Homo sapiens: one gene and its partners. The protein of the gene in region 1 purifies or fractionates together with the protein of each later gene. This does not show direct contact. Each region holds a gene or a part of one and is shown in the gene's direction. Other genes may lie near its edges.

Region 1 (3,500 bases):
TGCCCCCCTCCAACTGAGGCATCTGAGAGTTTCTTATAAACATCATGGCACTGGAGCCCTAAACTCGCCCACAGACACCTGAGAGCACAGCCGTCTTCCTCAGTCCCCCCCGGGCAGGGTGCGCTGCCGTCCTCCCAGTCCGCCCCCACCGGGCAGGGTGCGCTGCCGTCCTCCCAGTCCCCCCCCCGGGCAGGGCGCGCTGCCGTCCTCCTAGTCCGCCCCCCCGGGCAGGGTGCGCTGCCGTCCTCCCAGTCCCCCCCGGGCAGGGTCCGCTGTGGGGCGCTTCACGTCCACATGCTTCTAATACTCGGTCCCAGTGCAGATGTGCCACTTGCCCCAATAATTCCTTCTCTAGTTGTTGCTTTGTTGTTTTTGCAAACAAGATTGTATCCAGAGTCACATGCTGTGTTTGGTTATCATATCACTTCAGTCTCTTTTGTTCTAGAACATTCCTGCCCCTTTTTGTCTTGTATGACATTGACGTTCTGGAAGATAACTTCACTTTGGGTTTGCCTGATTGCGCCCCCAAGTAGGTCCAGGTTGAGTTTTGGGGCAGGAGTTCTACCCCAAGGGATGCCATGTCCTCCCCAGCTGGGTGGGGACGTTTGTGGCAGCAGCGCTGACCACGGCTGCGGGGGTGGTTTCTGAACCTCCACTGCACGAACACCACGCTGTCTGGTTAATAAGCACCGGTGGTGACCTGTGGAACCAACCGCTGCAGCGCGGTTCTGTGTTCGCCGCCCCTCGTCCGAGCGTTCCCCCCTCCCCTCCCTTTTTCCATCACGTGAGTTTTGAACGTGCAGTAATCCTTCACTGCCACTGCCGTGCATTTGATGGGGACCAGCGGGGGCCCTGAGCGCTTCCCATCTTTGGCACAAGCCCCTGTTCCTAGCTCACCCCAGACTTGCTGATCCCCCCATCCCTGCACGGGCCTTGGTCTTGGCCATTTCTCCAGGTTCCCTGAGTGGGGAATGGTGCTGAGACCCTCCTTTGAGTGATTGTTTTGGATAGTTTTTGTTTTCTTGCTGTCTGTTTAGAGTAGTGGTTCTCAAACCCTGCTTGGGCCATCCCACTGGGGAGCTGGGACACCACCTGGCACTGTGGTGGCAGTGGGGGTGACACTCAGACAAGGGCCATCGAGGGCCCCTGGACCAGAAAGCGAAGAGGGCGTTGGGGGCAGGAGGCCTGTGGGGCCATGTGTGGGGGCCGTCTGGGTGGCGGGAGCTGTTGGGGCAGGGCTGAGCGCCCTCAGCAGCCCACTGGAGAAAGCGCTGCTGGGGTCCTCGTGTGGGGCCCAGGGCCCGACGTGGAAGCAATGGAGGGCTGCAGGGGGTGGCAGTGGGGATGAATGAGTAAGGACAGAGTGCAGCCTGGGTCTCAGACAGGGGGTGGGGGACAGGCCACAGAGATTCCCTATCTCAGCAGAGAGGAGACAGGCTCAGGCTGCCACGCCTTGCCAAAACCCAGCCTGGCCAGGCCAGCCCGGCACCTTCCACCTAGATAAGTTGTGCTGCTCCAGAGAAAGAGCCTGGGGTCAGAGTGGACCTGCGATGCATGGCACAACCTGCTGGACAGTGGCGATGAGGGGTTCAGGGACCTGGGCACCCAGAAGCGGGCACCTGATATTGTACCCAGCAAAACTGCTCCTAATAATGTCATTTTTTCTCTCTCTTACAGGCCTCAGGCCCAGGCCCAAGGCCAAGTGAGAGAGCCCAGGCCACAGGACATGCTGCCATTCTGCCAAGAGAGGCTCTTCTGGGGGCCAGGCTGGGACTGGGCCCCGGAAACCAAAACTCCGTGCCTTACCCAGCCGGGGCCCTCCTGGAGCCTTCTTGGGGTGTTGTGGCTGGGAACCCGACAGGCACCAGTGCCCTGCCAGGCCTGGTGCCCTCCTGGACCGCCTGCACGTGCCAGCCTCCCACCTGCTTCCTAAAGGCAACCCTGGCCCACACCCGCATGCGCCCGGTGCAGCCTGCCAAGGGCCAGTCGGGGGGTGCTGCGTCCTGCCAGTGTCCACCACAGCTCTGCCTGCCCTTCAGCCCAGCAAGGTTTAATCAAAATGCAATGCTTTGCAAGTCTTTACTGCTTGGAGGTGGCTGAGTTGGGGGCCCTGGGCAGGGGTAAGCTGGCAGGCAGTGCCATGGCAGGCCAGGGTCCCCTCCCATGGGGTCTGGCCCCCGTTCCAGCATGTCCAGCCCCTGAAGTTGGAGTGGGGGGCGGTCTGCCTTTGCTGCCACTGCCAGGCCTCTGCCCTGCAGCTGAAACTTGGCCATCACATCAACAGAAAACCCCTCCCAGTGCCAGCTGCCCAGCGTGGGCAGGCCCTGGGGACAATACAGGTCCACCTGAGGGGCTGCAGGGTGACACCCAGCAGCCGCTGCCCCCTCACTGCCCACCCAGCGAGGGCAGCCTACCCGAGCCTGCCCCCTGCCAGGTGTGTGCCCTGAGGCTGGCGGCTGGATGCGTGGCCAATAAAAAGCAGACCTAGCCCGGTGTGCGACTGTCGTGTTCAGAGGCTGCGGGAGTGGGCGGTGGACGTGGGCTCCCACAAACATGGTGAGCGCTGGACAGGCCCCGTGTGAACACTCACTGTTGAGGGGCCCCCAGGCCCCGTGTGAACACTCACTGTTGAGGGGTCCCTGGGCCCCCAGGCACCGTGTGAGCATTCACTGTTGAGGGTCCCCCAGTCCCCCAGGCCAGGGGCTGTCCCTGGAGCCCTCAGGAGGCAGTAAGAAACATCTAGAAGAGGGCAGACCCAGTGGTGAACCGCATCCAACAGTGGTGAGATGGGTGCAGCTCTACAGGGGCGTAATTTACAAACCACCAGACTCCCTGGTTATGTGTGTGCTGCGGTGGTGTTTGCTCTCCAGCAGATCAAGTTTGTGCAATGATCCATTTTGAGAATCTCTCCGTCACCCCAAGAAGTCCTCTCGCACCCATCAGTCCGACCCCTTCCCCGTGCTCCTCCCCAGCCCTGGCAGCCACTCACCTGCACTCCAGACGCTCCAGATGTCATGCATGTCTCCTGGCTTCCTTCGGCTGTTTTCACGCGCCATCCTCACGGCAGGCTGTATCAGGACTTCATTCCATTTCATGGCTGAAGCACATTCCATTGCATGCAGGGACCACATTTTGTTTGTCTGCTCTTCTGTCCATGGACATCTGGGTTGCTTCCAGTTTGGGGCTTCTGTGAATCCTGCTGCTGTGGACATTTGCGTAGTCCTCGTGTGGATGCTGCTGTGGACGTCTGCGTCGTCCTCGTGTGGATGCTGCTGTGGACGTCTGCGTCGTCCTCGTGTGGATGCTGCTGTGGACGTCTGCGTAGTCTCGTGTGGATGCTGCTGTGGACGTCTGCGTCGTCCTCGTGTGGATGCTGCTGTGGACATCTGCGTAGTCTCGTGTGGATGCTGCTGTGAACGTCTGCGTAGTCTCGTGTGGATGCTGCTGTGGACGTCTGCGTAGTCTCGTGTGGATGCTGCTGTGCACGTCTGCGTCGTCCT
Region 2 (3,500 bases), on another chromosome or scaffold:
CAAGTTATTGCTTTATTCTGTACATGTCTGCTAATAGTATTTTTTTCTGTTTTTTTTTTGTATTTATTTATTTATTGAGGCGGAGTCTTGTTCTGTTGCCCAGGCTGGAGTGCAGTGGCACCATCTCCAGCTCACTGCAACCTCCGCCTCCCGGGTTCAAGTAATTCTCCCTGTCTCAGCCTCCTGAGTAGCTGGGATTACAGGCACCTGCCACCATGCCCAGCTAATTTTTGTAAAAACTCAGAACCTTCCAACACCAGGTTCCCTTCACCTGGAACATTCTTCAGCTCACCATAATTAGGCAACTCCTTTCATCCTAAACAAACTAGGTCCCCCAAACTCTCCCTCATAAGTCTGTCTGTCTGTCTCTCTCTCTCTCTCTCTCTTTTCTTTTTCTTTCTTTGTCCTTGTTGCCCAGGCTGGAGTGCAATGGCGCAATCTTGGCTCACTGCAACCTCTGCCTCCTGGGTTCAAGCGATTCTCCTGCCTCAGCTTCCCAAGTAGCTGGGATTACAGTGGGATTACAGGCATGGGACACCACGCCTGGCTAATTTTGTGTTTTTAGTAGAGATGGTGTTTCTCCATGTTGGTCAGGCTGGTCTTGAACTCCCACCGTCAGGTGATCCACCCGCCTCGGCCTCCCAAAGTGCTGGGATTACAGGCATGAGCCACCGTGCTGGCTGTATTTCATTTATTAACTCCCCCTTTTCTAGGTTCATTTTTTCGGGTTGCTGATGAGGAGACATGGTCACTCACTCTCCTCATCACCCTGTTCTGAATACGCTGGAGACTGCGGAGCTCCCGCACGGTGGGGCCCGGCGGTGGTTCCTAGGCTGCGGAGCTCCGGCACGGTGGGGCCTGGCGGTGGTTCCTATAGGGAGGTGCTGCTGTGTGCCTGGCAGTGTGCTGAGCACAGCCTGGGCAGCTCCTGTAGGGACTTTCTCTGCCCAGGGCCCTGCAGAGTGAAAGTGCTGTGGTCATCTCAGTGTCCAGTGGCTGACCTGCACAGGGCCACACAGTGGCTGGACCTGAGTTTACGTCTCCTGGGCCCCTCTACTCCCTGATCCCACGGCCCCTGACACTGCAGTCGGGTCAGCCTGATGCTGTGGTTCAAGTTCCTTTGGCAAATCGTTTGGTCTTGTTTCATTTTAAATCCCAGCCACCTGCTAGTTTCCTGCTGTGATGAGCTCTGACCAGCAGGTGGCTAAAGAAACTGCCGCCTAGCCAGAAATTGAGCCTTCTCCACTCTCCAAGACATCAACCCTGCTTTCCCACAGGTCCCAAGACCCCACGGGGGGCCACTCGCCCCTGCTGTTGCCCACCCTGAGAACCACCATTGTCCGACTGCTCACGGCCCTCCCTGCTGCTGAGCTGCAAGGGCTGGGTTAAGGCGGAGGGAGGCCTTTCAGACCCTGGAATGGTCTCTTTCTCTGCATGTGCCACCCATCTGGGGGAAGCATTTTGCTACATTTTGGGTTGTGTTCTCTCTGGGGACCTGTTGGGGCGGGGGGTGTTCACTCCAGAGCCTGCAGGATCCTGCGCTGTGTCTTTGTGTTTCCGCTGTGGGCTTTTTTTCCCTCAGTTCTGAGTCACCAAGAGGGGTGTGCAGCCATGGCAGTGCTGGGGGCCAGTCCTGGAGGAGATGGGGTGGAAGTGGCTGCAGGGGGAAACAGGGTTGTGCCCACAGCCTGCACCCCTGCCGAGGCCATCTGCAGGAAGAAATGCAGGGGGCAGACAGAGGCTCTGAGAGGCTGTGTCTTTCTCATGCTCATCTCATCCTGAGGGAGCCTGGGCAGGCGTCTGGGGTCCAGAGCGGCCCCACCTGCTGACTGGACATCTCAGGGCTGGTCTCCTTCCTCCTGCCCCCTCCAGCCCACCCTCTTCATAGCAGAGGTGGCCAGTAAAAGTGTGTTTCTTGGAGCTGATTGTTTTCGCAGGGAGGACGGGGGTGTGAGTGTGTGTAGTGCCAGTACATGTGGTTTCACAGCCTCAGCACCAGCAGAAGGCAAATTTCCTCAGAGTTGCATGTGCCCAGGGCTGCCTGTACCAGCCCACCTTACCTGTTACTGTCTTAAAAATTTGTGAACTTAGCCAGGTGCAGTGGCTCACGCCTGTAATCCCAGCACTTTGGGAGGCTGAGGTGGGCGGATCACGAGGTCAAGAGATCGAGACCATCCTGGCTAACACGGTGAAACCCCATCTCTGCTAAAAATACAAAAAATTAGCCAGGCATGGTGGCCCGTGCCTGTAGTCCCAGCTACTCGGGAGGCTGAGGCAGGAGAATGGTGTGAACCCAGCAGGCAGAGGTTGCAATGGGCCAAGATCGTGCCACTGCACTCCAGCCTGGGTGACAGAGCGAGACTCCGTCTCAAAAAAAAAAATTGTGAATTTTTTTTTCTGTATCCATCTCTTACGGTTTTTCTGAGGTGGGGCAGTAAAATTTATATAATGTTTTTACCGTCTTAACCAGTTGTACAGCTTTGTAATGCTGTGTGTATTTTCACTGCTGCACAGCAAGTCTGCAGGAAACTCTGAACCCATTAAACAGCTCCCCATTCACTCCACTTTTTTTTTTTTTTTTTCCGAGATGGAGTCTTGCTCTGTTGCTCAAGCTGGAGTGCAGTGGCACGATCTTGGCTCACTGCAACCTCCACCTCCCGGGTTCAAGCCATTCTCCTGCCTTAGCCTCCTGAGCAGCTGGGATTACAGATGCCCGCCACCACGCCCAGCTAATTTTTGTGTTTTTAGTAGAGTCAGGGTTTCACCATGTTGGCCAGGCTGGTCTTGAACTCCTGACCTCGTGATCTGCCTTTCTTGGCCTCCCAAAGTGTTGGGATTATAGGCATGAGCCACCGCACCTGGCCTCCACTTTCTGTCTCTAGGATTTTGGCCACTGTAGGGACCTCATGTAAGTGGAGTTGCACAGTGTTTTGTGATGGCTCATTTTACTCCACTTGGCGTCCTCGAGCGCCGTCCCTGTGGAGACAGTGTTTTGTGATGGCTCATTGCACTCCACACGGCGTCCTTGAGTGCCGTGCCTTCTGGAGCACGTGTCTGAGCTGCCTTCCTTTTTAAGGCTGAATGATGGGCAGGGGTCTGCACGGACGGTCTGTGTTTATCCTCCTCTGTTGGGGGCTCAGGCTCCTCTCCCCCTGGCTGTTGTGGATGTTGTTGCCGTGGACGGGGGTGTGGATGCTGCTGTGGACAGGCATGTGGATGTTGCCGTGGACAGGCATGTGGATAGGCATGTGGATGTTGCCGTGGACAGGGATGTGGATGCTGCCATGGACAGGAGTGTGGATGATGCTGCCGTGGACAGGGATGTGGATGATGCTGCCGTGAATAGGGGTGTAGATGCTGCCATGGACTGGGGTGTGGATGCTGCCATGGACACGGGTGTGGATGATGCTGCAGTGGATAGGGTTGTGGATGATGTTCCCATGGACAGGGGTGTGGATACTGCTGTGGACAGGGGTGTGGCTGATGCTGCCGTGGACAGG
Region 3 (2,530 bases), on another chromosome or scaffold:
CTCTTCTCGGCTGTGGTGGCCCGCCGCCTGGGCCGAGGCTCAGTCAGTGACTGTAGTGATGGCACGTCAGAGCTGGAGGAACCGCTGGGAGAGGATCCCCGCGCCCGACCACCCGGCCCTCCGGATCTGGGTGCCTTCCGAGGGCCCCCGCTGGCCCGCCTGCCCCATGACCCTGGTGTCTTCCGAGTCTATCCCCGGCCTCGGGGTGGCCCTGAACCCCTCAGCCCCTTCCCTGTGTCGCCTCTGGCCGGTCCTGGATCCCTGCTGCCCCCTCAGCTCTCCCCGGCTCTGCCCATGACGCCCACCCACCTGGCCTACACTCCCTCGCCCACGCTGAGCCCGATGTACCCCAGTGGTGGCGGGGGGCCCAGCGGCTCAGGGGGAGGCTCCCACTTCTCCTTCAGCCCTGAGGACATGAAACGGTACCTGCAGGCCCACACCCAAAGCGTCTACAACTACCACCTCAGCCCCCGCGCCTTCCTGCACTACCCTGGGCTGGTGGTGCCCCAGCCCCAGCGCCCTGACAAGTGCCCGCTGCCGCCCATGGCACCCGAGACCCCACCGGTCCCCTCCTCGGCCTCGTCATCCTCTTCTTCTTCTTCCTCCCCATTCAAGTTTAAGCTCCAGCCGCCCCCACTCGGACGCCGGCAGCGGGCAGCTGGGGAGAAGGCCGTAGCCGGTGCTGACAAGAGCGGTGGCAGTGCAGGCGGGCTGGCTGAGGGGGCAGGGGCGCTAGCCCCACCGCCCCCGCCACCACAGATCAAGGTGGAGCCCATCTCGGAAGGCGAGTCGGAGGAGGTAGAGGTGACTGACATCAGTGATGAGGATGAGGAAGACGGGGAGGTGTTCAAGACGCCCCGTGCCCCACCTGCACCCCCTAAGCCTGAGCCCGGCGAGGCACCCGGGGCATCCCAGTGCATGCCCCTCAAGCTACGCTTTAAGCGGCGCTGGAGTGAAGACTGTCGCCTCGAAGGGGGTGGGGGCCCCGCTGGGGGCTTTGAGGATGAGGGTGAGGACAAGAAGGTGCGTGGGGAGGGGCCTGGGGAGGCTGGGGGGCCCCTCACCCCAAGGCGGGTGAGCTCTGACCTCCAGCATGCCACGGCCCAGCTCTCCCTGGAGCACCGAGACTCCTGAGGGCTGTGGGCAGGGGACCTGTGTGCCCCGCACCCCCCATGCTTCTTTTGCTGCCTTAAGCCCCCTATGCCCTGGAGGTGAGGGCAGCTCTCTTGTCTCTTCCCTGCCTCCTCCCTTTTCCCTCCCCACATTTTGTATAAAACTTTAATTTCTTTTTTTTAAAAATGGTGGGGGTGGGTGGGTGCCCAGGGCTAGGGGCTATTCCCTGTCTCTGTGGGTTTCTAAGCTCTGGGCAAAGTGGTGGTAGGGGGAGGGAGGGGGAAGTTAAGGGGGTCACCTCCATTCTGGGGAATTTATATTTGAATTGAGGCTTTGGCCTTAACACCCAGGAACTTTTCTATTACAATCGCTTAGGAAGTAAAGCCTTGTCTCCCTCCCTGTTCTCTGCCTCTTGTACCCCTCTGACCCACCCGCTCTGCCCCACTCCCAGCCCTCCTCAGCCCCAGCCCTGCCTGCCCTGCCCCTCCAGGGGGCCATGAGTGCCTAGGTTTCTCATACCCCACAAGGTCACAGCAGGGGAGGGAGGGACAATTTTATAATGAACCAAAAATTCCATGTGTTGGGGGGTGGGGGGCGGAGGAGGGTGAGGGGTGCCGCCCATGGGCCACAAATCTCTACAAGTGCCTGCTATCCCTCTCCCACTCCCCACCCCAGCACCGGTCCAACCCCTTCATCCCCAGCTGCTCCTAGGACTGGCCCATGGGCAGGCGGGTGGGGGGATGGGAAGGGGGTGCCCTGAAACCAAACTGGAAGCCCCCTCTGCCTCCCAGCTGGGGCCTCTGGGGTGGGGTGGGGGGCTGTGGTCAAGCCTTATTCTGTATTGGGGACTGAGGGTGGGGGGAGTAGAGGGGCCGCTGGAGAATGTATTCAAAACAATAAAACTTTGGACCTTTGGATGCAGTGATCAATGTCCTAGGTGCTCGGTGCAGCCCCCTGAGGGCCACAGCTTTTGCTTGATTCTGAAGGAGGGGCCCCACCCTGGCTGCTAGTGGGTCTGTGGCCAGATCAGTATAGAGGGCCTAACCCTAATCAGAATGGGCCAAATCCAGGCCTGGGAAACCGTCTCCTGACCTCAGAGGCACATGAGCCCCAGAGCTTGATGATAGTGGTCTCAGGCATGCGCCGGCTTCATCAGACTGCTCCTCTGTTCCATGGGGACCTTGTCCTTGAAAGCTCTTCCCACTGTTTTTCACCACAACCCCACTGCCCTTGCTCTTCTGATTGCCTGGATGCCTTCCCACTTGTGGCTAGGAATTCTTCCCACACCCCAGGTCCCCAGTGAAGACCAGGAGCTCCCTTTTGCACTGCCCCTCGCACCCTGCCCACACCCCTCTCTTGTTGCTCTGAGTTCAGCTGGGAGTCCTTTGGAGAACAGCCTGTGGTGTCTCTTGAAATG
Region 4 (3,500 bases), on another chromosome or scaffold:
AGGCAGGGGACAAATGGGGAAAAAAGTTCTCAAAATAAAAAAGAGAAATATGGTAGTTTTAAGATGAGGATAAGCTAGGCAGCATTTTCAGGGGCACCTGTAGCCATCGTGGTTGAAGGATTTGAATTGGGAAAGTTCCTTTGGGTTTTTCCAAAAGGTGCTGTTACCTTGTATAGATATCCACCTATCTATTCACATGGACCAGCAAACGGGACTTCTCTCTCTATCGATATAAATGTCTAGAATGAACACTGGATGCATAAAATAAACTGATCTGTTCAGACAACTATTTTCAAATAGTTTTTTTTTGCATCTTTCTTAGAAGAACTGTTTTGTTAATGCTAAGAGGTAAATGCTGCTTATTATAACCTATAATCACAGCTCTGCTTTGTAGAAAAATCAACTTTCTGCAACTCATAGATCTTGCTGAAACACTGTTCTTGTGATTTTAGTACAACTTTTACTTTCTTTTATAAAGTATAAAATCTCACACTGAAGACAACAGTAGCCCTTGTGTTTGCTAGTATGGGATTGTCCACTAAGGGACAGCTAAAAGAACTGAAATAGTTAATGCTTGGAGATCTGAGAGTGGCAACTGTGGATGTGATTCTTTTAAGGTAAAATCAACAGGCACTTACTTTATGTCAAAAGAAAAATTAGGCATATCCAGTTCATTCTTCTCTCAGTGCCTAGGATTTAATAGATTGGAATACATTTCAAAAATAAAGAATTGCTTGAACTGGGTAACTGATTTGATGTAAATGCCAAAGGAGAAGGAGTAAAAGGAAAATGACATAGAGTCTGAGCTAGAGTAACAGGGACAGTATTAATTAATATTAACCAAATATCAAATAAGAACATTTAAGAGACGAGGCCAGGCGTGGTGGCTCACGCCTGTAATCTCAGCACTTTGGGAGGCCGAGGTGGGTGGATCACGAGGTCAGGAGTTCAAGACCAGCCTGGCCAAGATGGTGAAACCCTGTCTCTACTAAAAATACAAAAATTAGCCAGGTGTGGTGGCGGGTGCCTGTAATCCCAGCTACCTGGGACACTGAGGCAGAGAATTGCTTGAACCCAGTAGGCGGAGGTTGCAGTAAGCCGAGATCATGTCACTGCACTCCAGCCTGGGAAACAGAGTGAGACTCTGTCTCAAAAAAAAAAAAAAAAAAAAAAAAACATTTAAGAGAGAAAAAGACTCTCGGGGAAATTGGATGAGTTTGTGAAGTCCCAGATGTCCCGACACACTGAATTGGGAATATCACAGGCATTTAGATACAGAGCCTAGAGAGAGAGATTAGGCCCAGAGATTCTGATCCTCTAGAGGGCATTTAGAATATAATCTTAAAGTGGCATGGGGGAAGAAAAAAAAGCAGGGGTGCTACAGCAAAGACACTATCAGATGACAGATGTAGGAGAGTGGTCATGTCAAGAAGCAAAAGGAGATGATTTTGAAGGATGTAGCAGGTAATCAACAGTACCACGTGCTATGGAAAGATTGGGAATAATTCCATTATGAATTGAAATCACTCAAGGAAAGAATGTGGCAATCCTATCACATTCTTTTAATCTCCAAAGGGCTTGTAATTTTATTAAGTTTACACACAGTAAACTATGGAGCAGAACGTATATGTGTGTTCCATTTCTAATATTTACAAGGTGCTCTTTGTAAGTCACTGATTATAGACCAACAGAAGAATTCTTAACAGTTCTAGAACCAAGAAGATTAACATCATGTTTATTCCATATTTTAAAATTCATTGTCTGCATTCTGCTCTTGGAGTAGCTGAAACAGAAAAAGAGACAGCAGAGCACCTAGATCTGGCTGGTGCTTCTTCTCGGCCAAAAGATTCACAGAGGAACAGTCCCTTCCAGATACCGCCTCCATCTCCAGATTCCAAAAAGAAATCCAGAGGTATCATGAAACTCTTTGGAAAGTAAGTAAAGCAGTAAACAAGTGGAATGGGCCCTGTCTTACATGTTGCTTAAAAGTGGCTGGACATGGGTATGGACTTTGTAAGGCCTTTGTATTCCTCTTATGGAAGGAAGTTTGGATTGTGATGTGGGATTTATTAACTCATTGGGTCTTAGTTAAAGTTTAAATTTAAATGTCTATGTTAACAACACAAAGAGGATTAGTTCCAGTAGGTGCACTAGTTAAAAATGTTCTGATTAACAAGTCTAAGGCCTCCTCAGGTCTAATACTGGCCATGTGTGTTGTCTTCTTTAGACTTAGGAGAAGTCAATCAACTACATTCAACCCAGATGACATGTCTGAGCCTGAATTCAAAAGAGGAGGGACAAGGGCAACCGCGGGGCCCCGATTAGGTTGGTCTCGAGACTTGGGACAGTCTAACAGGTAAGAAGAGCCAACTGATAGACTTTTGCATCTCTACCAAGCATCATAGCCTCATGAGTCCTGCAGTATTAGTACTGTCATTGGGTTAAACAAAGTCATTGCTTAATGCTGTGCCTAATGAAAGGGGCCATCATCTTTAGAGCCGTGCAATTTGTCAATGGTTGATGAACAAACAGAAGGTGAGGGCTGTGCGAACTAGGGGAGAGGCCAGAGCTAAAGTGTCAGCAGCATCTGTGTTAGAATGGCTCTCAGACTTAAATTTTACGTAGATGGTAATTACAAGTACTCTAAAGCATAACTTTGGAAAGATGGGATAGCATAGTGGTTAAGAGTATGTTCTAGAATCAGACCACTTGGATTTGCTTTCTGGCCTTACCACTTTCTACCAGCTGGGTGACCTTGAGCAACAGCTTCCACACCCTGTGCCTCAGTCTCCTCATCATCATAATTAGTACCTACCCCAAAAGCTGACCATGAAGGTTAAATAAGTTAATATGTGTTAAATATTTGGCAGATAATAACTACTCAAGAAACATTAGCATGTAACAGAATCTATGAAAGCACTTAAAGACAAAAATGCTATCAGAATCCTTGTATTTATCAGGACTATATAATATTTTATCCATTAAGATTCTAAGAACTGCTCTGACACTCTTAACCAAAGTTTAGGGCTGGCTTAGAACTACTACATTGACTCACTGTGCATAAGAGGGTGGGGTTGGCAAACATAAAGTACAAGACATTGATACCAAATCTTTTAACAGTATAATAGACTGACTAGAAACCCTTTACATATAGCCCCTCCCATACAGGTGGAACACTGGACATAGGTTACATCAAGGAGGAAACTCTCTTTGGCCTTCTTCAAATACCAAACAGTTTCATTTGCCATATGTTGTCTTTGAACACAGTAGAGCTCCTTGTACTATTTAAAAAAAACCATTCATCTTCCCCTCCGCACCCTGCCCCCACCCCGGAACAAGAACACTATTTGTGTATCTAAGTAAAAGAAAACAGGAATTTTGCTTTGATTGTTTCCTACACTCAGTGACAACATATTGCCCTCTTCTCATTGGTTACCATATGGAAAGAAACCATAATTCTGCTAAAGTTAGTTCAAATTAGACTTAAGTTTCTTTCAGTC
Region 5 (3,500 bases), on another chromosome or scaffold:
CACAGGCAGATGCAGTTAGAGTTGGGATGGAAGGAAGCTGGGGAGGACTTCCTGGGTATGGAATCGTTATTATCCTGGGGCTGTTTCTAGACTTCGTCAAATAAAATAAATTTAGCTTTAGATAGGAAGTTATTGAACTCTAAAGGAGGATTGCAACAGGGAGAAGGTAGCAACTATCATGGATCTCATGGCCATAGAGGGCATCTGTGCAGGGTCACCAGGAACTCTCTCACCAGCACCTGGAGTCTTTTGGACATTCAGGAGTGCACTGTGCAGACGGGGCTCAGGCTGACAAAACGGTCTATCTGTGCTTCTGTTGTAGAATAAGAGAAATGAGTCACCCAGGGTTTGTTCCTCCCCTCAGAGAAGAAACCTCATTGGTATCCACATGGGAATTACTCCAGTTTTTCTGGTACTTCAGTAAAAAACAAAAATGAGATCTGGAGATTCAAACTGATAAACTAATTGATTCCATCCTGTGTAGCCATTAGGAAAACAGAGAAGGCAGCCATGGTCCCCGCAAGCCAGAAACTTTTCCATTTCCAGTAACTGGATAAATCATTGAATTCAGCGTCTTGGGGTCAGCATGAAGAAGGGAGTGGTCAAAGGGACTTCTGCTTCATTTGGGCCATTTTCCTGATGTGGTTGTTGTGAGTTCTGATGTCATATTGAAGGGATATTCAGACAGACAAGGTGGTGGTGGTATTATTTCTGTTGCTTTTGCCCGGCTAAAAATAAATATTTAGCTTCTACCATATCTGTCCTAGAAAATCCTAAAGGTTTCGGTTAAATTGCTTGTTATTTTATGTTATAAAATAGACAAGGAAGTGGCCAAAATAGATTAAAATTATACAAACCCTGGGATTTAAATTTTGGGGTGGGGGGCAGTTTTAGGAAAAACAGAATTGTAAATACTCTAGTAGCATAGAGAGCAGAATCCTGCGTAGGGCCCTCTCCCTGCCCAGACATGCCCAGACTCTCCTTCTCTGAGTCTCATCCAGGTCTGGCTTCACCCTGGACTCTCCTCCGACAGAGTTAACTACAGAATTAAATCAGAGTTTTGGGTTTAGCTACAGAGTTAAATCAGTTTGGAGTTTAACTACAGAGTTAAATCAGAGTTTGACTCCTGCTGCCTCTCCGGAACTGATACACAGAATTTTCGGAAACCCCAAAGCAGATAAATGGGATCAAAGGACTCTCTATTTTGGAGCCTTAATTTTTCTTTTTTACTAACACCAGCGCTGTTAGAGACATCGTATCCAGCAAGCTCTTTCTCAGTCCTGTGGGTCTAATAGTTGCTTCACAAGCCACAAGAAAGTGAAGATAAACACAACAATGGAAAGTGCCTTTGCACTACACTTCATCCCCTCTGTATCCCTTCCATTGGTCTATCTGGAGCTTTTATCACTACACTTTTAAAACGTTAATGATAGGAAAATAGAAGAGGAACCACAAAGCCTGGTCCCTTCATCTATATCTTGAGAGTTGCAGGACACTTGGTTCCATCACCCAGGGTGTGGTGAGGATTAACTCACATGACGTGAGGTGCCCAGCACAGTGCTGTCACATACATCCGAGCACCCCGTGCCTGCTTAATAAACACTGCATTCATACGTGTGTACACATTGTTTTCCAAATGCAGACAGACTCAGACATTGCTTCCTTCTCCAGCCCTGGAAAACTTTAAAGAGCCAGGAAATAATGTAATCTTTCAGAATAGAGATTGGCTGTCTCCATTTGCACCAGAAGAACTTATGTTGTGGTCAGAGGGTTGGGTGTAAGGGACTGTGCTGGGGCTGCTTTCTTTAGCTGAGTGTTAATGATCACAAGTCTTGGGGGAGCAGCATCACCATTAATGGCAGAACTGTTAAAAAATCCAACCCATGAACCCCTTTGAAATCTTCAGAATCACATGACTTAGAGTGGGGCCAAAATTACCAAAAGATTCATATGCACATTGAAGCTTGAGAAGCAAGGCTTAGCTAAATGGTTCTCAGCCTGGCTTCTAATTAAATCACATGGACAACTCAAAAAAAGGCCCTCACCTTTGCCCTCACAGATTCTGCCTATTGGTTTGGGTGGAAGCACCAGTGCTGTTTAAGTCACATGCATCATGGGATTCTAAGGTGTGGCCAGAATCAGTGATGGGGGGTTTCAGATGCATTTGTACGAGTTGAGCTCAGCCTTGGTTCCAAAGGGAGGTCACAGGGCCTTCTTTGCCTAGGTTTCAGAGGCCAGCTCAGTGCAGCTTATACTCCAATTGCTGAAGCAGAATTGCTGTTGTTTAGCAGGAGAGGGAACCTGAGAGCAGGAAGAGAGAAAGTCACATTTTGATCTCCATGTAGAAGTTTACTGTTCCTGAATCTCTTTTATAAAGAACAGAAAAGCGTGGACTTTTTCTGTATTTCTTGGTCTTTCTGTTGATGGTTGTGGTGGTAGCAGGTGAAGGGGTTGTGCTAACACCTTTAAAGGCATATTCTCACGATGCAGGTGTGATTTGTCCAGAGAATCTTTCCTAAGAGGAAATCCCAGAGAAGCAGGAGAAAGAGAAAGAAATGGCTGGTGCTCAGGTAAATGCATCTCAGGTCAGGGGTTGTGTCCACTTTTGCTCCTGAAATGTCATGTGTTTAGAATTTGGAAACCTTTACTTCTCTACTTGTGGTGTTTCTCCATAGTAAGTTTGTTTCAACTACTTTTTTTTCTTATAATAATGAAGGGTCTCTGAAAATATTTGTTTTCTATATACCAAAGCCGTCTCTCTGTTATCTTCACCTTGACTTCTTATATGCCATGAAGAATTCTTACCATGACTTTATGACCTGCAGTATTAAAAAGTTCACTTCGTGGCACTGAACTTGTGGATACCCAGGATTCCTCTTGAGGATGGGGTGGGTTTTTGGATATCAGCAAAGAAGGGAAATGTGCACTCTTTAGGTTTCATCTGGATGCTCCATAAGCTGCATGCAGAACAGGACTAAGAAAATAAACATTTAAACCAGATGACATTTATCTCTCAGAATAACTCAAAGCATTCTGGAAAAGAGAAAAATGAAAAGACACTTGCTTTTTAGAATGCTAAAGAAAGACTCTTTTAATACACTATTAGAGATTACTGCTGGGCATGGTGGCTCATGCCTATAATCCCAACACTTTGGGAGGCCTAGGTGGGCAGATCGCTTGGGGCCAGGAGTTCGAGACCAGCCTGACCAACATGGTGAAACCCCATCTCTACTAAAAAAATACAAAAATTATCCAAGCGTGGTGGCACATGTGGGTAGTTCCATCTACTCCGGAGGCTGAGGGACGAGAATTGCCTGAACCAGGGAGGCAGAGGTAGCAGTGAGCCGAGATCGCGCCACTGCACTCCAGCCTGGGCTACAGAGTGAGACTCAGTCTCAAGACAAAAGAAAACAGATTACAGAACCTGGGAGATATTTGTCAGAACCTGGGAGATATTTGTCAGAACATAGGAGATATTTATTTGTCAGAACCTGGGAGAT
Region 6 (4,022 bases), on another chromosome or scaffold:
TTTTCCAGCCATTGTAGTCTTTCTATGTTGGCTATGATTTTTACATAGTCCAAAATTTTCAGGGAAATAACTTATTCCAGAGCACACAAGCCTTAAGGGCAGTTAATGTTTAGATTAATTTCGTGATACTTAGCATCCCAAATAGCTGTTTGTATTTCTTCTATAAAACAAGTGAAAGGGGCTAGAAATCTCTAAGAAGTCTGACAGTTCTAAAACACTGACTTAAAATTACTTCTATGATTCGGAGATTTGGGTAGGAGAAGGCATAGAAATAAATCTAGCATCTGCGAACACACTTGTTAAATGTGCTGACCAGGTAAAAGATAACATCCTTTAGTTATTTTGGTTAAAAATGTCTTTGTTTCTCGTTTTTTTTTTTCTTTAATAGTAATTATAACGATAATCTGTTTCCTTTTTAAAAGTATAAGACAAATAAATGCTCAAAGTAAACAATTCCAATAACTCAGAAGGGGCCATTCCCTGGAAAGGTCCCGGGAAAAACGAGCGCTTCCTGGCAAGAAGCAAGCTTCAAAAACTGCCTCGGAAACGTGGCTGAAGTCATCGCATTTCCAAACGCCCAAGCCTTGGCTGGTCCAGGGCAGCTGGCGCGGAAGACCCGGAACGCCCTGTGGGCAGGGCCAGCTGCGGACGGAGGGACGGGGGCTCAAGGGCGGGTCGGGTGGGGTCCCGACGCCCCCTCCTCGGCTGGGCGCACCCCGGGTGTCCGCAGGGAGGGGCGATGTTCTGGGGGGGGGAGCGTCTGCCCGACGCCCCCTCCCTCAGGTGAGCTCAGCCCGTGGGGGTCCGCAGAAAGGGCGGTGCTCTGGGAGAGGGTTAGGGTCTGCCCGGCGCACCCTCCCCAAGGGGCGCAGCTCTGAGCCGGGAGCAGGCTCTGCGGGGAGGATCCAGATGTTGGGGGCGGGGAGGGCACTCGGTCTGCCCAGCGACCCCTCCCGAAGTGAGCGCGGCCCGGGGTCCGCGGGGCAGGAGATGATCCGGGGGCGGGAGCCTCTGCCGCGCGCCCCCTCCCACGCGTGCGCAGCCTGGGCCGGGCGTTGGGCAGCGGGAGGGGGCGCGGGCGGCCACGTGGCCTCGAAGGAATGCGCGGGCGCGAGGGCAGGGCGCTGCCGAGAAACCGGCAGGCTCTGCGGCCAATGGGCGCCCGGAACGGTCTGGGCCCGCCAATGACAGCATGGTGGGTGGAGCAGGCCGTCCGGGCGGGAGGGGCTGGGCGCATCCCTGTAGCCGGCGGGCGCGCGATCCGGGACGGACGGGGTCGCGGGGGACGCGGGGGACGCGGGGGACGGCGGGGAACGGCGGGGGACGGCGGGGAACAGCGGGGGACGGCGGGGAACAGCGGGGGACGGCGGGGAACAGCAGGGGACTGCGGGTCGCGTCCTGGCCGCCGAGGTGAGTGCGGGCCCCGCGGACCGTGGGTCCCCTCGCGGGCTTCTGGTTTCCTTTGAGAGTTGCACTTCTGCCCGGCTCCCCCGAAATCGCTGGGTCCCACCCGGAGGTGGCTGCGCCCCCGACCCCCTGCGCAGATGTTTCAGGGAAGGGGCTGAGACCCCCTCCCCCCGAGCAGCTCCCCCTTCCGCGGCGCCCCCGGCCCCTCAGGATAACGGCGCGGGCCTGGGCGGGGGGAGCAGGGACTGGCAGCAGGGACCCCTGGCCCCAGGGGCAGGAGCGAACTCCGATCGGCGGAAGGAGCCCGAGGGGCGAGCTGGCTTCGCCTGGGGGGTCGTGCAGTAACTTAGATTTTCCGGTAAAGGAGAAGAATGCGGTCCGCCTCAGGATGCAGAGAAGGACCGGTGTAAGGAAAGCCGGCGTCTTTCCCCCGCACCCTACCTGTCCCCCTACCCCACCAGTTCCCCGCACCCCGTGTACCCCGCCTGTCCCTCAGCACCCCCTGTTCACTCTGCACTCCACCAGTTCCCCGCACCCCAGCTGTCCCCCCGCACCCCACCTGTTTACCCTGCACCCCAGCTGTCCCCCGCGCCGCAGCTGTCCCCCCCACACCCCACCTATTCCCCCGCACCCCGCCTGTCCCCCCGCACCCTACCTGTTTATTCTGCACCCCACCTGTCCCCTCGCACCCCACCTGTTCCCCCTGCACCCCACCTGTCTTCCCCACACCCCACCTGTTTACTCTGCACCCCAGCTGTCCCCCCACACCCCACCAGTTCCCCGCACCCCGTGTACCCCGCCTGTCCCTCAGCACCCCATGTTAACTCTGCACTCCACCAGTTCCCCGCACCCCACCTGTCCCCTCGCACCCCACCTGTCCTCCCCACACCCCACCTGTTTACTCTGCACCCCAGCTGTCCCCCCACACCCCACCTGTTCACCCGCACTCCACCTGTCCCCCCGCACTCCACCTGTCCCCCCGCACCCCACCTGTCCCCCCTGCACCTCACCTGTCCCCCCGCACCCCACCTGTCCCCCCGCACCCCACCTGTCCCCCCGCACTCCACCTGTCCCCCCGCACCCCACCTGTCCCCCCGCACCCCACCTGTCCCCCCGCACCCCACCTGTCCCCCGCACCCCACCTGTTCACCTGCACCCCACCTGTCCCCCCGCACCCCACCTGTCTCCCCGTACCCCACCTGTTCCCCCGCACCCCACCTGTCCTCGCACCCCACCTCTCTCCCTGAACCCCACCTGTCCCCTGCACCTCAACTGTCCTGCACCCCACCTGTCCCCCTGATCCCCACCTGTCCTCTGCACCTCACCTGTCCCCCTACACCTCACCTGTTTACCCTGCACCCCAGCTGTCCCTCGCACCCCAGCTGTCCCCCCCGTACTCCACCTGTTCCCCTGCACCCCACAGCCCGCTGGTGCCCAAGAAGCCAAGGTAGATTCTGAGGAAACTGCCCTAGGTCCACAGACGCCCTGCCCACCTGTCCCAGCCCCACTCCCCTTCCATGGGCCCCTGGGCACTGAAGGTGAGGTCTGAGTACCCCTCCCGACTGTGGCCAGTAGGTCATGTTCCCAGGCAGCAGTAGACGAACTTGCTGTTGTCTGATATTGATTCCAGTCACTAACTTTGGCTGCAAGTAAAAATTCTCATTGACTCAAGATGTAACGGGTTTTAATTCTTTTCTCTGGTTAACCATAACCTGAGTACGGACTGGTCAGTATTCTAGATTCTGTGCAGGAGTGACTTAATGTCCATATGGGTGGAATGCTGCAAGGAGGAACAATTTCACTGTTGCTGATTAATAATATGTTTTGAACACCTGCTTTATAGAAAATAATTTTTATTCGAAAAGAGAGATGATTACTGAGGTTTACACGTCATGTATTTTTAAAAACACACTTTGTCCCTGTCTGTCTCTCACAGCATTTATTTGCTGGCTTTAGCAGCCAACATCGGCAGTTACGGATGCATAACTCTTTATAGACAGATGAGACCTCCAGGATTTCTCAGCAGTAAGAAAAGTCATTTGTATAAGGTGCTATTTGTAATTCATTAGTTGTAGACAGTTGGGGGTGAAGTGAAGTTAAAAGTTATTCAGAATAGCTTTTTATGTTTTTAAAAGTTGATGCTTGACTTCCAGATGTAACCACATTTGTCTTCTGGGTGCTTTGGTGTGCTGCCTTTCCTCTGCAGTTTGTGTGTGCATACGTGTGCGTGTGTCTTTGTGTATGTGTTTGTGTTTGTATGCATGTGTGTGCGTTTGTGTGTGCGTGTGTTTGTGTGTGTGCTGTGTGTGTGTGCGCTTTGTGTGTGTGTGTGTGCGCGTGTGTGAGTTGTAGATAGAGGCGTTGGGTGGTGTGGAGGGTGTGGAGTTACAGACCTGGGTTGAGGTGGGGAAGCTTTTCCCTGGCCCTGTGAGTCCAGACTTCTCACGGGACTTGAGGGTGCTCACTTACGAAGTTGCTAGAAGGCGTTGTATGGGGAAGTGCTGCTTAAAACAAAGATGTTTGGCATAAATTAGAGCAAACTGGAAATGCGCTAATGACGGTTGTATTCTGTAAGCGATGTGAAAACGTCATAGTGAGATGTAAGAAAGCGCTGT
Region 7 (3,500 bases), on another chromosome or scaffold:
TACTTAGGTTCTTTTCTAGAGGAATTAGATTTGGATGTTTAAGTGCTTCTGTTGAAAACTGCATGGGCTCAGGTGAAGAAGTGAGCTTCCATAGCATTTCAGACAGTGTTGCAGCAAAAAGGAACCACATACATTCCCACTCTACAGTTAGATTTAACTCCAAATTTACTCTGCTGATGACACTAAATCTTACCAAAAATAAGCTGGCCACACAGAGCAGGAACAGATGAGGGGATCTGCCCAAGCACAAGTGCAGTAAAATGCAAGGTCACCACAGCCTGGGCTTGTAACCCAGGTCCGCCTCTGAGTCAGTGTGTGGTCTTGGCAAAGGTAGCAGGTGGACTGGCAAAGCATTTTTATGAAGCCACAGACTCAACTTCAGCTGTGGTGTATAATGATTATAGGGGTTAGGGGCGCATTGGCACATACACTTGCTGGTTTTCCTACAGTTGTCCTCAATGTAGTCTGGGTAAGTGACACAGAGGCTAAGCAAGTAACCTGTGAATCGCATAGCAACATGATTATAATACCTGTTTTGTGTCTGATCATACCACCCCTCAGGAATGCTTTTGTAAATAAGCCATTCTCTAAAGGCACCTTATTGCTGAAAATTAAACTGCAACTCGACTTTCAGTCGGGATTGGTTTAAAATGATCTTGCTTGTTGCATTAAGTTCTCCTCCTTTCTCTGCCCTCCTCGCCAGATGCAGCTAAGCCCTTCAGCGTGGTGGTCTTCCATTGCCGGCACATGTTCCACAAGGAGTGCCTGCCCATGCCCAGCATGGTGAGTTGGCAGCTTGGCACCTATCAACTAGAGGGAAATTAACACACTTAGAGGAATGTGCTTTAAACTGTAACCCTTCATCCTTATGGCTGTATGGGTTAAAAAAAAATTACAATGTGGATTTATATCACATAACAAAAATTAATCTAGTTTTCAAATGTAAAAATATTTAGAAATGTTCTATGTACTATAGTAAACATAAAAGCATACCCATTTGAAGGAATTCATTCAGGCCCAGTTGACAGCTGTCATGCTGTAGAGATGAGCAACAACAGTAGAGAGCCATTGTGTATCTTATGTGTTTCTCAGCCTGATTTGTGTTCCATGATGCTATCATTTTTTTAGTGTCATATTCCTCCAGGTCACATTAGACGTATTCTGCTGTTGGGTGTCCTTGGAGTCACAGAGTAACAGCTGATCTAGACTAAATCCTATGTTAACCAGAAATAAACTCCAGAGAAAGGAGTGCCATCCTATTACTTCCTCTCCACCCCCTGACTAACGCTACCTTAGTGTTTCTGAATATGAGAGTAGAAAAAGAAGATCATTTTTTAAATATGTGTTTTTAAATTGCATTTTTAGAACTCTGCTGCACAGTTCTGCAACATCTGCAGTGCTAAGAACCGTGGACCAGGAAGTGCAATTTTGGAGATGAAAAAATAGCTCATTTCTCCTTGTCAGTCTCCTTGTCACCACTCTTTTTGAGACTGTTTTTGCAACAACAAAAGCATTTGTTGACACTCGTGCTGTTAAGAGATTTGTTTATGTTTATATTATACTCAAAAACAATTTCTTCATCTATTCCTGTACTAATGGTTTCTCTTTGCAGTTCACAGAGAATTTGGGGCTCTCTTCATGCCTTGAAATTTTGGGGTCCATAGTGAATATTTTGTTATTTATTTGTTTGGCTCATTCTTTATATAGTAATGGAAACATAAGTCTAGGAGTTAGAAATGAATTTTTTAGACCTTAGTAAAACCATTTAACCATAAAATGGACAACTGAGAATTCTCCCAGCTGCCTGAAAGCGTCGCCAACTGTGGTTATCCTGCAAGCTGCTACCTGCAACTTGGACGTTGTTTCCACGTGCTCTGCTGGCTACGATTCTTGCATTCTGGGTTTGGCTTTTTTCTGTGTCATCAACTATGGTTATCCTCTAAATAGGCATTTAATGAAACATTGTACAAATTGTCACTCATTTGATGACACCTGGGAATAACATTAGCAGGCTGATGTCCTGCACCATTATGTTTACTAATCACATGTTCTGTGTGCTGTGACGACTGTCAAAGAGTATCTGGCCATGGCGGACACTCAGCATTTGTTGATTGAATAAATGTTAGCTCTTCTCATTGTGAAGGACTCACTTTTACTGGGATAAACAAATGCAGTTAAGAATTCTGGCACCCTTGTAAGGAAGAAAAGAGAGTTCAACACCTTCGAGTCTGAGCGCTTGTGGCTAGAGTTTGCCAGGAGGGAGGAAACCAGTGACCCTGAAAACTGAGGGTGCCTCAGGAGCAGTGGGACCACCTGATGCTGAAGGACGGACTAATGATGTTTCCTCTTGCCTTCTCTGGTGCCTCCATTGCCCTCATGGAACAGAGCATATCATAGAGGGAGAAAAGTCAAACTTGTAATTGTGTCTTACAGTTACTGGCTTCATCTTCCTTGGGATATATGGTCATCCTCTAATGAGTGTAAAAGTGCGCAAAACACATCCTTATTGTTCCTGATCTCTTAGTCCCATAAATGGGAACAAATACAGCTTTCTGCTTCTTTCTTTTTGGGGAAAGGACAGGGTGCTAGTGAGTACTGACAGCATGCCAGCTACCGAAGTCACCCAGCCATTCCCATGAGCAGCAGTTCATTTAATTGTCACAGCGTCGCCAGGAAGAAGATCTGATAAACCTAGGTTTACAGATAAAGAAAGCAAAATGTAGAGATGTTGTTGAGGTCACAGAGGTGACTGCCTAACTTCAGAGCAGGGCTTCTGATCCCTTTAAGAAATTACAGGGCCAGCCGGGCATGGTGGCTCACGCCCGTAATCCCAGGGCTTTGGGAGGCCTTGGCAGGTGGATCACCTGAGATCGCACGTTCGAGACCAGCCTGACCAACATGGAGAAACCCCATCTCTACTAAAAACACAAATTAGCCAGGCGTGGTGGTACATGCCTGTAATCCCAGCTACTCAGGAGGCTGAGGCAGGAGAATCACTTGACCCCAGGAGACGTAGGTTGTGGTGAGCTGAGATCGCGCCATTGCACTCCAGCCTGGGCAACAAGAGCAAAACTCCGTCTCAAAAAAGAAAAGAAAAGAAAAGAAATCATAGGGCCAAGTTCAAAGGAAATGCACAGAACATATCTTCACATTAGAGTTAAGAATTCTCTAGCAAACAACAGATTTTTTTGTTGTTGTTAGTCACAAATACTTAGAACTGGAAGGCTCTTTGTTATTATTGAATGTACCCCTCAGCCTTCTCAGCATTTCCTTATCCCAAGACTAGTGTGCTTTCTGCTACACTGCTAGTTTTCAGTTTTGTTCTTACCCAATTGTTTTTTCTTTTCAACATTACCAATTTACAGATTCAGTTTATTACATTTACATTAATCCTCACTTATGATTTGAGCAAGCTCATTTCCAGAAAAGTTTACTTTAAGATCATCAATAGGATTTGCTAATTTCAGTGAAGTCATTTTGCTTCAGGGGTAAATTATCCT

Evidence for each region.
Region 2: the proteins of INF2 (region 1) and TUBGCP6 purify together in Homo sapiens (affinity purification with mass spectrometry; one large-scale study listed by BioGRID and IntAct). This does not show direct contact.
Region 3: the proteins of INF2 (region 1) and ERF purify together in Homo sapiens (co-immunoprecipitation; 2 studies listed by BioGRID and IntAct, with this or other methods). This does not show direct contact.
Region 4: the proteins of INF2 (region 1) and PPFIBP1 purify together in Homo sapiens (affinity purification with mass spectrometry; one large-scale study listed by BioGRID and IntAct). This does not show direct contact.
Region 5: the proteins of INF2 (region 1) and ZNF195 purify together in Homo sapiens (affinity purification with mass spectrometry; one large-scale study listed by BioGRID and IntAct). This does not show direct contact.
Region 6: the proteins of INF2 (region 1) and ARHGEF10 purify together in Homo sapiens (affinity purification with mass spectrometry; one large-scale study listed by BioGRID and IntAct). This does not show direct contact.
Region 7: the proteins of INF2 (region 1) and VPS41 purify together in Homo sapiens (affinity purification with mass spectrometry; one large-scale study listed by BioGRID and IntAct). This does not show direct contact.

The regions. Positions count from the first base shown.
Region 1 is NC_000014.9:104,717,118-104,720,617, forward strand, and holds part of INF2 (inverted formin-2), read left to right. Parts: intron 1-445; coding exon of another isoform or gene 446-529; intron 530-1,677; coding exon of another isoform or gene 1,678-1,706; 3' UTR 1,707-3,500.
Region 2 is NC_000022.11:50,235,024-50,238,523, reverse strand, and holds part of TUBGCP6 (gamma-tubulin complex component 6), read left to right. Parts: intron 1-3,500. UniProt on the Homo sapiens protein: Component of the gamma-tubulin ring complex (gTuRC) which mediates microtubule nucleation.
Region 3 is NC_000019.10:42,247,069-42,249,598, reverse strand, and holds the end of ERF (ETS domain-containing transcription factor ERF), read left to right. Parts: coding exon 1-1,134; 3' UTR 1,135-2,030; downstream 2,031-2,530. UniProt on the Homo sapiens protein: Potent transcriptional repressor that binds to the H1 element of the Ets2 promoter. May regulate other genes involved in cellular proliferation.
Region 4 is NC_000012.12:27,677,706-27,681,205, forward strand, and holds part of PPFIBP1 (liprin-beta-1), read left to right. Parts: intron 1-1,783; coding exon 1,784-1,934; intron 1,935-2,227; coding exon 2,228-2,356; intron 2,357-3,500. UniProt on the Homo sapiens protein: May regulate the disassembly of focal adhesions. Did not bind receptor-like tyrosine phosphatases type 2A.
Region 5 is NC_000011.10:3,372,647-3,376,146, reverse strand, and holds part of ZNF195 (zinc finger protein 195), read left to right. Parts: intron 1-2,471; exon of another isoform or gene 2,472-2,555; coding exon of another isoform or gene 2,556-2,570; intron 2,571-3,500. UniProt on the Homo sapiens protein: May be involved in transcriptional regulation.
Region 6 is NC_000008.11:1,822,704-1,826,725, forward strand, and holds the start of ARHGEF10 (rho guanine nucleotide exchange factor 10), read left to right. Parts: upstream 1-1,222; 5' UTR 1,223-1,410; intron 1,411-3,343; exon of another isoform or gene 3,344-3,407; coding exon of another isoform or gene 3,408-3,432; intron 3,433-4,022. UniProt on the Homo sapiens protein: May play a role in developmental myelination of peripheral nerves.
Region 7 is NC_000007.14:38,724,192-38,727,691, reverse strand, and holds part of VPS41 (vacuolar protein sorting-associated protein 41 homolog), read left to right. Parts: intron 1-703; coding exon 704-783; intron 784-1,365; coding exon 1,366-1,446; 3' UTR 1,447-3,500. UniProt on the Homo sapiens protein: Plays a role in vesicle-mediated protein trafficking to lysosomal compartments including the endocytic membrane transport and autophagic pathways. Acts as a component of the HOPS endosomal tethering complex.